Linked DNA regions of Homo sapiens. The protein of the gene in region 2 binds, or shares a complex with, the protein of the main gene of each other region. Each region holds a gene or a part of one and is shown on either strand. Other genes may lie near its edges.

Region 1 (3,500 bases), on a different chromosome or scaffold from region 2:
CATGCCACTGCACTCCAGCCTGGTCAACAGGGCGAGACTCCATCTCAAAAACAAAACAAAACGAGGTGATGCTTCTGACAAGTGCTTAGCTGGCACCTGGCACCTGGTGGCTGGGCAGGCCCTCGGCAAGGGCAGCTCAAAATACAGCTACATCTGGGGACTCGCCCATGCTGAGCTGAAGCAGCCCAGGGTCAAAGTCTTCACAGCAGGCTGGGCGTGGTGGCTCACGCCTGTAATCCTAGCACTTTGAGAGGGCCGAGGCAGGCGGATCACAAGGTCAGGAAATCGAGACCATCCTGGCTAACACGGTGAAACCCTGTCTCTACTAAAAAAAAAAAAAAATACAAAAAAAATTAGCTGGGCGTGGTAGCGGGTGCCTGTAGTCCCAGCTGCTGGGAAGGCTGAGGCAGGAGAATGGCGTGAACCCGGGAGGCGGAGCTTGCAGTGAGTCGAGATCGCGCCACTGCACTCCAGCCTGGGCGACAGAGCGAAACTCCGTCTCAAAAAAAAAAAAAGAAAAAACTGTATCACAGGGTATTTTCAGAAGTCTCACCACCATTCTGGTCCCTTCTACCTTGTTCCCTGCCTCGTACTAACCCATTTCCTTATTACACTTTTGTGTCTTGCCAGCGTGAGTGCATACACAGAGGTGTGTTCATCTCCACCCTGCCTTCTCACACAAAGGGTAGCTTACTCTATGTACTGTCTGTCCTTCAGACTTGAAATTGAAGGAGCCATTTTCAAGACACTGAAGGAAAACCCAAGAACAAATAATCCCCTGTGAATAGTCCAGTGTACCAGTCCAGTGTACCAGTGTACCAGTGTACAGTCCAGTGTACCAGTGTCATAGAGGAACTGCCACTGGGGCTGGGTGCAGTGGCTCATGCCTGTAATCCTAGCACTTTGGGAGGCTGGGGTCGGAGGATCACTTGAGCCCAGGAGTTTGAGGCCAGAACAAGGGACTAGAGTCTGAGCCTGGTGCCAGCTGGGTTCCCAGGGCACAGAATTTGGATCCTGGATGACAGGGGCGAAGTCCTGGCTCCAGTTATCACTAACAGCGGGAGCCCCAGGCAGTGGACTTGCCCTCACTTGGTGGTGGGGGTTCCCGATATGTACAAAGGGGTTAGAACCATCGGCCTTGCCGTTCATGACCGATTCAGAGGCCTTGTGGACAGGCTGGTTCAGGTGGGCGTGTGGCGAGCACATGGTGTGCACTGGGCGGGCATCCAGGAGAGGCAGCTTTTATCCCAACAGCACCCAAACAGGAGCCCTGGACCCTGGGCAGAAAAGGCAGCCAGAAGCACAGAAAGGGTCAATAAACTAGTTCTACAATTGCTCTAAATGGGCAGATCCACAAGAGGCCACAAAAGAGGCCAGAGACTTGAAAACCCGTGCGTGTTCTCCGCGGTCGCTGTAGCCGGATCCTTCCTCATGGCTGTGGCGGTGCCGACGGCGGGCAACTGAGAGGAAGCCACAGGAGAAAGAGACCGCCACACAGAGACGACGGTGAGTGAGGCCAGGCCCCTGTTGGCAAGTGGTTGCTGCCACTGTAGTTCCACTGCCACCGCTGATGGGAACACTTGAGGCCAGACTGAAGCCCTGGCTGACATGGAGAGAGAGCAGGGGCTTCTCTAGGGGCCTGCAGGCCCCCAAGCATGGAAATAAAGGAAAATCTTGAGTCCCTTCATGAAATTCCAGGCACCTAGCTAGCCCTGAGAAGCAAGTGAGCAACTCGATAAGCAAGAAGGTAATAGTTAGCTTAAAACAATAGCCAAGGAAGTCAGAATCAGGGGATGTCTGGTTTCCCCATAGAAACTAAAGATAACTTTGTTTTTTTTTTTTTTTTGAGACAGTCTTGCTTTGTCGCCCATGCTGGAGTGCAGTGGCACGATCTTGGCTCACTGTAACCTCTGCCTGCCTCCTGGGTTCAAGCGATTCTCCTGCCTCAGCTTCCAGAGTAGCTGGGATTACAGGCTCCTGCCACCACACCCAGCTAGATTTTGTATTTTTAGTAGAGACGGGGTTTCACCATGTTGGCCAGGCTGGTCTTGAACTCCTGAGCTCAAGTGATCCACCCGCCTCAGCCTCCCAAAGTGCTGGGATTACAGGTGTGAGCCACCACACCCGGCCTAAAGATAACATCTTAATATCTGTCCTTGAGTTGCTTTTCAGAAATCTGGACCCTCAACAAACAATTCCCCTGGCACTGAGACCTCAGATAAGGGGAACTGAAAACTACACTCTGACCACTCTTTAGACTCCCTGAGGGGCCTGGAGGACATGCCCACAGGTTATAGCTAACATTCTTTTTTGCTGATGCCAAATTTGTAGACAAAGCTTCACCTCCTTAACCACTCACAAATCAGAAAATCTTTGAAGCCACCTATGATCTGTGCCCCATCCCTTGGAGACATCCTGCCTTCTTAGGCCAAACCAATATATAGCCTCCTGGTGTTGATTTAAAACTTTGTCTGTAACCTCTGCCTCCTGCCTTTGAACACCCTTAACCATAAGCCATCTGGGAATTTGGGTCTTAAGCATGAGCTGCCGGATTCTTCTTGCTTGTCGCCCCACAATAAAGGCCTCACTTTTGGCTGGGCACAGTGGCTCACGCCTGTAATCCCAGCACTTTGGGAGGCCGAGGCGGGCGGATCACCTGAGGTGAGGAGTTCGAGATCAGCCTGGCCAACATGTCGAAACCCCGTCTCTACTAAACATACAAAAATTAGCTGGGTGTGGTGGCGGGTGCTTGTAATCCCAGCTACTCAGGAGGCTGAGGCAGGAGAATTGCTTGAACCAGGTAGGCGGAGGTTGCAGTGAGACGAGATTGCACCATTGCACTCCAACCTGGGCAACGGAGTGAGAATCTGTCTCAAAAAAACCAAAACCAAAAACAAAAACAAAGCCTCACTTTCTCACTGCGATTTTTGTCAGTAATTGGCCTTAGTGTGCAGGGTGAGCGAATCCATTTGTTTGGATAGCATCCAGCTTCCAGCCCTCAGAGAGGAGGCAGAAGTGCTGGGCCAAAGAGCAGACCTCACTCAGAGCTGCCACAGCAAAGCCAGCATGGAAGGGTACCTGTGAGTGTGGTGGCTGCAGGGACAGACGGAAGGAAGCCTGCATTCTCATCCTGGCCTGCGACAGCCAGACGAGGGGCAGCTGTCTGCACCGCAGCTTCCTTATTGATAAAATGAGCAATTTGGAGTAAACTCCTTTCTCGCTTTCGCTCCACAATCCTAGGAATTGGAACTCCTCTAAGGGCAGGAAAAGGGCCAAGGGACTAGCTTGTAGACTCTGACTGCTCTGGGTTTAAGTCTCAGGTCTGGTACTCTTTATTTATTTTGAGACGGAGTTTCACTCTTGTTGCCCAGGCTGGAGTGCAATGGCGTGATCTTGGCTCACCTCAACCTCCACCTCCTCGGTTCAAGCGATTCTCCTGCCTCAGCCTCCTGAGTAGCTGGGATTACAGGCGCGTGCCACCGCACCCAGCTAATTGTATT
Region 2 (3,500 bases):
AGGCTAATAATTAGCAACTCTTACCACTCCTTGGAGGTCTTTATGCTTAATAATTTGCTAAAAGTAAGTTGTCCTTTTTGGTTCACCTTTTTCAAGAACTTTGGGCTTACCGCTTTATTAGGTATGTTGTCCTGTGTTAGACAAAGAGGGACTCAAAGTCTGGGTATCAAAACTCTTCTTCAGCAATCACTAAAACTACGGCCCAATGAATGTAGGAATGTTTAATCCTATGAGGGCTCAGTATGTGCTTATTTTTTCCTGCTTTTTCTCTCATGTGAATAACTGTCATTGTGATTATCCCTTGTAACTTTTACCTTGGCTACCTTAAAATTTTGGGTGTGGTAAACCAGAAAATCCAGGTTAACTATGTATACAAGTAAAATCAGAAAGTGTTACCTGTGAACTGGCAGATCTGCATTAGGCATTAGTAGAAATGCAAAACCTTAGTTAAGTTCTGCCCCATACCTACTGAAGTAGAATCTTCATTTTAAGAAGATTCCCTGGGGATTCATATACACATTAAGGTTTCAGAACTACTGCTCTAATGAAGGACCAACTATGAGCCTCTATTGCAGAATAAAGCTCAAAAAGGATTTCCAACAGCTATTTCAAGCGCTAGGACCTTAGGTTCTGTATAGTTGAGATCTTACCTACAGGTAACCAGGATATTACTACAGCTGAGTAACTGCCGTATGCAACTAAAAAGGAGATGGAAAGTCTAATCTTGCCTGTTATTTGCCATTTCTGGGGGTTACTAACCAGGAAAGTTAATACACATTCCAAAAGAAAAATGAAATCTCCAAGAGAACTCTTGTATCTTTACTTACCACCATTCCAATATTGTTCTGTTGTCCACTAGTCGCCATCTCCACACATTCATCTATCACAAGGTTCATAAAGGGATCAAATCCCCGCAATATTCCTTGGACATGTCTGCCACCATTTAATTTCACTATTAAAAAGAGAAAAAGAAGTTTTAGAAAAACATTCCATTAGCTACCAAGCATTCACTAAAAATCAGGTGGGATAAAACACAAGTATTTGAGATGTCTGAAACCCACTATCCTTACTGTATGACAAGAACTGGGTTAAACATTTTTGTATTTACTTCCACATTTTAATTTATAAGAATCCTAAAAAGTAGTATTATCCTTACTTTATAGGACAGAACTAAACTTCAGAGCTTTTTTAAAATTTTTATAAAGATGGGGGCTCCCTATGTTGCCCAGGCTGGTCTCGAACTCCTGGGCTCAAGGGATCCTCCCGCTTTGGCCTCCCAAAGTGCTGGGGGATTATAGGTGTAAACCACCGTGCCCGAGCTTTTAAGTAACTGGGTTCATGGTTATACAGCTACTGTACGACAGAAGTGAGATTCAAGCTGAAGGCTGCTTACCTCTAACGCTCATGGTTTTTTCCCCTACATATATTTCAAGTACTGTGTGGGTCAGATTTTTAGATAAATTGAACAAATGTTATTCCTACATATTCCCAAGAAACAAGATAACTGTTCCTTGTCTAAGTCCTTTGTAGCTTGTTTAAAGAAAAAAGGTTGATAAATCCTGTTAATTTTGCCAAAGTGAGGAAGGGCTTACATAAGATAAAGTCTGAAGTGCTGTTAAATTAATTATCAGAAATTAGGTAAATAAAATTGTCTAGTTAGGATTAAGTAATCTGCTTAACTAACGGATGTGAATTAGAGGTCCTGTGTGCTTTAAATTTTTTTTTTTTGAGACGGAGTCTAGCTCTATAGCCCAGGCTGGAGTGCAGTACCGCCATCTTGGCTCACTGCAAACTCCGCCTCCTGGGTTCATGCCATTCTCCTGACTCAGCCTCCCGAGTAACTGGGACTACAGGCGCCCGCCACTGCACCCGGCTAATTTTTTTTTGTATTTTTAGTAGAGACGGGGTTTCACCGTGTTAGCCAGGATGGTCTTGATCTCCTGATCTCACGATCCGCCTGCCTCGGCCTCCCAAAGTGCTGGGATTACAGCCGTGAGCCATCGCGCCTGGCTGCTTTAAATTTTTATAAAGTTGCTCCAAACATTGCTAAGACACATGTAAAAAGCAATTAAATAATTAAAAAAAACCCCAAAACAACAACAAACTTACATGATAACTTCTTGTCCATAAATCTGAAAAAGGAAAAGGGTAAAGATTATATAACCAATTAAAAAAATTTAAGCATAAACAAGTAAATAGGTATAGTTAAGATAATTTGCTAAAATTTATACAATGGGAATAATGAAATCTAAAATAGTAAAAATAATGTATTGCTGTAAAGAGTGAGGGAGTAGGGCGAGGTAGCTCACGCCTGTAATCCCAGCACTTTAGGGGGCTGAGGCGGGTGGACTGCTTGAGCTCAGGAGTTGAGACCAGCCTGGGCAACATGGTGAAACCCCATCTCTACCAAAAATACAAAAATTAGCTGGGGGTGGTGGCACATGCCTATGGTTCCAGCTACTTGGGAGGCTGAGGTCGGAGAATCACTGGAGCCTGCCACGTTGAGGCTGCAGTGAGCCATGATTGCGCCACTGCACTCCAGCTTGGGCAATAGAGCGAAACTGTCTCAGGGGAAAAAAAGAGTGGGGGCGTAAAGGGTTACCTAAATTAGACATTCTAGGAAGCAAAGTAATTTGGGAAGAGGAAAGGCAATAAAAATGAAACATATTTAGACTATATTAATTTACATTAAGTAGAGTATACTAATGTGAATTACATTCTTATTGTTCAATACTACGTTGTTTCATTGACCTAAATTTCTTTCTTTTTTTTTTTTTTTTTAAGAGATGGGAGTCTCATTATGTTGCCCAGGCTGGTCCTGAATTCCTGGCCTCGAAAAATATACTCCCCCTCAGCCTCCCAAAGTGCCGCTGGGATTACACAGGCATGAGCTACCACATCTGGTCTCATTGACCTAATTTTCAATGACTGGATTTTATAGTCACAAGAGAAAAACAAAGACTTGCCTATGTTTGGTTATTTCCAAAACTAAGTTGTAAAGACAGCAAACAGTAATCAAATCATATCCAATTCAATAGGTATTTTATATTTGAAATAAGTAGTGTTCTTTTATTTAATATTAAAGCATCAAGCATAAATGTTCAGGGTAGTCCTCAACATTTAAGTATATTTTAGAATAATAAATGCACATTTGAAACTTCAAACGATATGAATTAAAAAAAAATTCCATTTTAGTGGAATACGAGATTAAGCCATGCAGTCAAATCAGTTTTTAATTTCTTCCATATAGGCCAGAAAACATAAAATTTCATTCAATTTTAAAAATTTCATTCAAATTTTAAAATATAAAAAAATGAAAAAAAGATGTTTAGTATATGGGCCACGAAGTGGGGCACTTATTCAATTTTAATGTATAGGATTATCATGGGAAAATGTAAATATAAAACAAGGAGCATGACTGAAGGAGGGAGTAGATACATTTACAAGTAAAAATATATTTATGGGCTGGGCGCGGTGGCTCATGCTTGTAATCCCAGCAC
Region 3 (3,500 bases), on a different chromosome or scaffold from region 2:
TGGAATCAAGGATAGGATCAAGTGTCTTACCCTTGTGGGCCTCAAAAGGGGGCAATCAGAGTTATCTAATACTTTATTATGTGTTAAGGGATAGTATGATGAACAGAAAAAGACAGACAAAGGGGACCCTGGAGACAGAGGAGGCCTGGCCTGTTTGTGTGCTGGGGGCCCAGGTGGAGGCGAGGGCTTACTTCTCAGAGGCTAAGATCATTTTGGACAGCATGGGGTCCACCGGCAGCTCTGCCATCTTTCGACCAGACTAAGGAGAAGAGAGAGAGAGTTGAGCCCAGTCCTCCCTCAGGTTTCCCGCTACTACTACAGGGGTCCCTGGAGCCATCCTGACCCCTATCATCCTGCCTCCACCCATGCTGTCCCCCGACTCACCGTGGTGAGCTCCCCAAGGTGGTTGAGGGCTCCCAGAGCATACAGCTGCTCCAAAGCCAGCAGCAGTGTCTCATATGGTGGAGGGTCCAGGAAATCAAAGTGCATTAGGTCATGGATCCCTAGAAAGAGGTGTGATGGATGGAACAGAGTCCCTTCAAAGGACAGTGACTCCAGCCCCTCCCTCCTCTCTCAGGTAGCCCAATCACCTAAGCTCTTGAGCAGCAACACGACATTGCCCAAGCTGGTCCTCTGGATCTCAGGCACTGTGGTTTCCTCAAGCTCGTGCTGATAGGCCCAGGCGGTATACAGGCGGAAGCACTTCCCTGCAGCCACCCGACCTGCCCTGCCAGCTCGCTGATTGGCTGAGGCCTGGAAAGAAAGGGGAACAGGCTGGCTGACAATTTGGTCAGGGAAAAGAAAAAGGCAGTATTTATGCAAGAAATCTGGAAGGATGCAAACTGCTCATCCCGGTTCCCTAGGAAGCCCCCACCCTGCTTCTGAGTTGGACCTTCTCTGTGGGCCAACTCCACCTCCCCCACTCCCATGCATCCCCAGGCTGACCTTGCTGCAGGGTGTGACAGTGAGCGATTCCATGCCTGTGCGGGGGTTGTAGCTCTTCTGCTTACAGAACCCTGGATCCAGCACATAAATGATGCCCTCAATGGTGAGTGATGTCTCAGCAATGTTCGTTGCCACAACCACCTGAGTGATAGGATATGGGGTCACCCAGTGACCCCACCTACCTAGTTACCCAGAAAAAGTAATCTTGGAAAGTTAGGAGTAGTGAAGCAGTTGCAGTAAGGGGCAGGAGCTGAGGGAATTAGTAGTATCCAAGGTCAGGAGCAGGGGACAAGGCCAGAAGACAGGGGACAGGGAAGTGGGGGCTGGGAGTCAGCAGGGCCATAGGAGGAAAGGAAATGGAGAAGAGGATTTAGGGTTTTTTTTTTTTTTCAGAGATGGGAAATGGGGGTGTTCAAGTTCCTGCCCGATCCTCCCCATCACCGCTTTCGTCTTCACACAACACTTCCTGTAAGAGCCTCCTAACGTGTATCCCTGCTTCTGCTCCTAGCCTCTGTCACATGGCATCCAGGATGGTCCTTTTAAAATACAAACCTGTCACATCACTCCCCATCCTTCAGTGGCTTCCTATCCTACTCTAGAATTCAATCCAAGCCCCTTAAAAGCCTGGATCACCTACCCCAGCTGCCTTTCTGACCTCATCTGCTAGCACTCCACCACCTCCCTCACTCCTCCCACACACTGCTTTGCTCTGCCCAAGTAAGTGCACTCCTCACTGGATCATTTGCATCAGCTATTCCCTCTGTCTGGCATACTCTTCTCCCAGATATCAGCCTGGCTCCCTCCCTCACCTGGTTTGGGTCTCTATTCCACTTTCCCCTTACTGAAGAGGCCCTCCCTACACCCCAAGGAAAATACCTTCATGCCAGTCCTCACTCCCACCCCACAGAGTCAAGTTCCATCCTACTATGCTGCCTTGTATCTCTTCATAGCACTGGCCACAAATTGACAATATGTATTTATGCATCCACTGCTTCCCCGATAGACCACAAGTGCAAGTTTGTTAGGCTAAGGACTTTGTTTTGTTCATCACTGTATCATCAACCCCTGTGTACCTGACACACAGAAGGAACTCATTAAATATTTGTTGAATGAAAGTTATATCTCTGCTCAAAATCCTTTGACTGCTACTCAGCTGTCTAAAGTCCAAACTTCGCCAAGCACAGTGGCTCATGCCTGTAACCCAGCACTTTGAGAGGCCAAGGCAGGCGGATCACTTGAGTCCAGGAGTTCAAGACCAGCCTGGCCAACATGGCGAAACCCCATCTCTACTAAAAATTAGCTGGGTGTTGGCCAGGCATGGTGGCTCACGCCTATAATCCCAGCACTTTGGGAGGCCAAGGTGGGCAGATCACCTGAGGTCAGGAGTTTGAGACCAACCTGGCCAAAATAGCGAAACCTCATCTCTACTAAAAATACAAAAAATTGGCCAGGCGTGGTGGAGGGCACCTGTAATCCCAGCTACTGGGGGGCTGAGACAGGAGAATCGCTTGAACCTGTGAGGCAGAGGTTGCAGTGAGCAGAGTTGGTGCCACTGCACTCCAGCCTGGGCGACAGAGTGAGACTCCATCTCAAAAAAAAAAAAAAAAAAATTAGCTTGGGGTGGTGGTACACACCTGTAATCCCAGCTACTTGGGAAGCTGAGGCACAAGAATCACTTGAGCCTGGGAGGTGGAGGCTGCAGTGAGCCGAGATCTTGCCACTGCACTCCAGCCTGGGCAACAGAGCGAGACTCTGTCTCAAAAAAGAAAAATAAATAAAGTCCAAACTTTCCTGTCATCAAAGGCCCTCCCTAATCTTAGCCCCAAATTGTTTTTAGCCTTGTCTCCTACTCCTTCACCACATGAACCTCCCACTAAGCCTACTAGCTCACACTCTGACCTCAAACATACCTTGGGCCTTCCTCTGATGACTTCTCAGCCATTTTTCTTTTTTGAGATGGAGTCTCGCATTGTCACCCAGGCTGGAGTGCAGTGGCACAATCTCAGCTCACTGCAACCTCCTCCTCCTGGGTTCAAGCGATTCTCATGACTCAGCCTCCTAAACAGGTGGGATTATAGGCGCACGCCACCATGCCCTGCTGATTTTTGTATTTTCAGTGGAGGCAGGGTTTCACCACGTTAGGCAGCCTGGTTTCGAACTACTGACCTCAAGTGATCCGCCCACCTCAGCCTCCGAAAGTCCTGGGATTACAGGCGTGAGCCACCGCACCTGACCTCAGACATTTCTCTTAAAGGTCCATATCAAATCCCACCTCTTAGCACATCAAGGACTTCCCTTCTCCACTGAATCTACTGTGCATACTTTCCAGATCACATATTTGGCTCTCTCTTGGTTCACACCATATTTCTCCTCTCTTCAGTCCCAGGAACAAGGGACTGGCTGCTCCTCAGCTGTGTGCAGCAGTGCGCAGGACTCACCTTGCATGGGGCAGGCACACAGCTTTTTCACTACTAGTTGTGGGAAGCATAGGGGTGAAGAGTGTGGGTTTCTCCAACTGACCTTTCGTGCCCCAGGTGGTGTGGGCTGGAAGATAC
Region 4 (3,500 bases), on a different chromosome or scaffold from region 2:
TCTAGGCCATGTGCGGTGGCTCATGCCTATAATCCCAGAACTTTAGGAGGCCAAGGTGGGCGGATCACTTGAGGCCAGGACTTCAAGACCAGCCTGGCCAACACGGCGAATCCCCATCTCTACTAAAAATACAAAAATTGGCCGGGCGTGGTGGCTCACGCCTATAATCTCAGCACTTTGGGAGGCCGAGGCGGGTGGATCACGAGGTCAGGAGATCGAGACCATCCTGGCTAACACGGTGAAACCCCGTCTCTACTAAAAATACAAAAAATTAGCCGGGCATGGTGGCGGGCACCTGTAGTCCCAGCTACTTGGGAGGCTGAGGTAGAAAAATGGCGTGAACTGGGAGGCAGAGCTTGCAGTGAGCGGAGATCACACCACTACACTCCAGCCTGGGTGACAAAGCAAGACTCCGTCTCAAAAAAAAAAAAATACAAAAATTAGCTGGGCATTGTGGTGTGCACCTGTAATCCCAGCTACTCAGGAGGTGAGGCACGAGAATCACTTGAACCCAGGAGGAAAAAAAAAATTTAAAAATAAAATATAAAAATACAAAAATTAGCTGTGTGTGGTGCATGCCTGTAGTCCCAGGTATACAGGAGGCTGAGGCACGAGAATCATTTGAACACAGGAGGTAGAGGTTGCAGTGAGCCAAGATCATGCCACTGCATTCCAGCCTCGGTGACAGAGTAAGGATCTGTCTCAAAAAAAAAAAAAAAAAAAAAAGACCCACTTAAATATGCTCTAGGAAATTAATTTAAATGAACTAGTACTAGGCAATCATTATTTTTTTTGAGACAGAGGGTGAGTCTCTGCCTAATAACAAAAACAAAAACAAACACCCAGTATCTGAAACCCACTGCCTCAGTAATGTTCTCACCATATTGCTAGCTGCTGAAAAACATTTGACAGCACCCCACCATCTCCAGCAGTGAAATAACATTTGGGAATTGTACAAAGTGGTGTCATTTTATTAAGTCCCTTAAGGAGGGGGAGATACATAGCACAAAAGTGGTCTGACAACAAACATAAGAGAAAGAACTTTTGGCCAGGCGTGGTGGCTCACACCTGTGATCCCAGCACTTTGGGAGGCTGAGGCAGGAGGATCACTTGAGGTCAGGAGTTTGAGGCCAGCCTGGCCAACATGGTGAAACCCCATCCCTACTAAAAATACAAAAAATTAGCTGGGAGTGGTGGCATGCACCGGTAATCCCAGCTATTCGGGAGGCTGAGGTGGAAGAATCACTTGAACCCAGGAGGCAGAGGTTGCAGTGAGCCAAGATCGCGCCACCGCACTCCAGCCAGGGCAACAGAGTGAGACCCTGTCTCAAGGAAAAAAAAGGAGAAAGATCTTCTTTCTCATCCCAACAGAAAAGTCACTTTAAAGCCACACACATATTGGCTCACACCTGTAGTCACTGCACTTTGAGAGGCTGAGGTGGGAGGATCACTTGAGTCCAGGAGTTCAAGACCAGCCTGGGCAACACGGCCGAGACTCTGTCTCTATGAAAAATTTTAAAAATAATATAAAAAGGCCGGGTGCAGTGGCTCACGTCTGTAATCCCAGCACTTTGGGAGGCCGAGGCAGGTGGATCACGAGGTCAGGAGTTCAAGACCAGCCTGACGAAGATGGTGAAACCCGATGTCTACTAAAAATACAAAAATTAGCCAGGTATGGTGGCAGGCACTTGTAATCCCAGCTACTTGGGAGACTGAGGCAGGAGAATCACTTGAACCCAGGCAGCAGAGGTTGCAGTGACCCGAGATCATGCCACTGCACTCCAACCTGGGTGACAGAGTGAGACCCCATCTCAAACAAAAATAAATAAATAAATAGAAAAAAAAGAAGGCTGGGCGCAGTGGCTCACACCTGTAATCACAGTACTTTGGGAGGCCGAGGTGGGCAGATCACAAGGTCAGGAGATTGAGACCATCCTGGCCAACGTGGTGAAACCCCTTCTCTACTAAAAATACAAAAATTAGCTGGGCGTGGTGGTGCATGCATATAATCCCAGCTACTCGGGAGGCTGAGGCAGGATAATCACTTGAACCAGGGAGTCGGAGGTTACAGCACCACTGCACTCCAGCCTGGCGTAGACTCGACCAGAGCGAGACTCGTCTCAATAAAAAAAAGAAAAAAGAAAAAGAAAAGAAATGTTACTACGGCCGGGTGCAGTGGCTCACACTTGTAATCCCAGTACTTTGGGAGGCTGGGGTGGGCAGATCACGAGGTCAGGAGTTGGGAGACCAGCCTGGCCAACATGGTGAAACCCTGTCTCTACTGAAGATACAAAAAATGAGCCAGGCGTTGTGGCGCATGCCTGTAATCCCAGCTACCAGGGAGGCTGAGGCAGGAGAATCACTTGAACCCGGGAGGCAGAGGTTGCGGTGAGCCGAGATCACGCCATTGCACTCCAGCCTGGGCGACAGGGCAAGACTCTGTCTCAAAAACAAAATAAAATAAAAAAAATAAAGGTACTTTAGGGCCTAGGGTTATAACACAACAGTTAGGCTTCCCATGTAAAAGGCCCAGGAAGGAGAAAAGAGGAGAATCAAAAACAAGTCATCACACCAAATTGCCTAAGACTGATAGTGATTACCGTACTTGTCTTGCTCTGTGGCCCCAATCTATACACATCAATATCACTTGCATTGCCAGTGCTACAAATGGAAACCTGTGTTCTAAAACGCAAAGGCCCTTAAGTCCCTCTCCTCACCATTCCCTGCCCTGTCAACGTGTAACCCATGAAAAAATTATCTCACATAGAAATGTGGAAGACAGCCAGACACAGTGGCACACACCTGTAATTCCAGCACTTTGGGAGGCCAAGGTGGCAGGACTGCTTGAGCCCAAGAGTTTCAGACTAGCCTCGGCAACACAGTGAGACTCTGCCTCTCCAAATAATTAAAAAATTAGCTGGGCATGGTGGCATATAGCCCCAGCTATTCAGGAGGCTGAGTGAGCTATGGTGGTGCCACTGCACTACAGCCTGGACAACAGAGTGAGACCCCCATCTCAAAAAAATAAATGTGGAAGACGCTTTTGGGAAGAGAATACAATTGATCCCATCTTTCTAAAGGATAATGAGGTAACAGGTATCAATATTTTAAATGTACTTTTTTTTTTTTTTTGAGATGGAGTCTCAGTCTGTCGCCCAGGCTGGAGTGCAGTGGCCTGATCTCAGCTCACTACAACGTCCGCCTCCCGGGTTCATGTGATTCTCCAGCCTCAGGCTCCTGAGCAGCTAGGATTACAGGCGCACAACACAACATCTGGCTAATTTTTGTATTTTTAGTAGAGATGGAGTTTCACCATGTTGGCCAAGCTAGTCTCAAACTCGTGACCTCAGGCATCCACCCGCCTCGACTTCCCAAAGTGCTGGGATTACAGGTATGAGCCACCGCATCTGGCCTAAATGTACATATTATTTAAAGGACTGTACAGATAAGTACAGGGCCAGGTGTGCTGGCTCATGCGCGTAACCCCAGCACTTTGGGAA

The links. Proteins that work in one complex are often made in the same cells at the same time.
Region 1: SNRPG (region 2) and ARMC7 share a complex: the UniProt entries of both Homo sapiens proteins name them as parts of the minor spliceosome.
Region 3: SNRPG (region 2) and DHX16 share a complex: the UniProt entries of both Homo sapiens proteins name them as parts of the minor spliceosome.
Region 4: SNRPG (region 2) and LSM2 share a complex: the UniProt entries of both Homo sapiens proteins name them as parts of the U4/U6-U5 tri-snRNP complex.

The regions. Positions count from the first base shown.
Region 1 is NC_000017.11:75,116,469-75,119,968, reverse strand, and holds part of ARMC7 (armadillo repeat-containing protein 7), read right to left. Parts: intron 1-3,500. UniProt on the Homo sapiens protein: As a component of the minor spliceosome, involved in the splicing of U12-type introns in pre-mRNAs.
Region 2 is NC_000002.12:70,287,241-70,290,740, forward strand, and holds part of SNRPG (small nuclear ribonucleoprotein G), read right to left. Parts: intron 2,133-3,500; coding exon 2,110-2,132; intron 953-2,109; coding exon 828-952; intron 132-827; coding exon of another isoform or gene 21-131; exon of another isoform or gene 1-20. UniProt on the Homo sapiens protein: Plays a role in pre-mRNA splicing as a core component of the spliceosomal U1, U2, U4 and U5 small nuclear ribonucleoproteins (snRNPs), the building blocks of the spliceosome.
Region 3 is NC_000006.12:30,656,007-30,659,506, forward strand, and holds part of DHX16 (pre-mRNA-splicing factor ATP-dependent RNA helicase DHX16), read right to left. Parts: coding exon 3,466-3,500; intron 1,087-3,465; coding exon 946-1,086; intron 754-945; coding exon 591-753; intron 504-590; coding exon 385-503; intron 260-384; coding exon 192-259; intron 1-191. UniProt on the Homo sapiens protein: Required for pre-mRNA splicing as a component of the spliceosome. Contributes to pre-mRNA splicing after spliceosome formation and prior to the first transesterification reaction.
Region 4 is NC_000006.12:31,800,467-31,803,966, forward strand, and holds part of LSM2 (U6 snRNA-associated Sm-like protein LSm2), read right to left. Parts: intron 1-3,500. UniProt on the Homo sapiens protein: Plays a role in pre-mRNA splicing as component of the U4/U6-U5 tri-snRNP complex that is involved in spliceosome assembly, and as component of the precatalytic spliceosome (spliceosome B complex).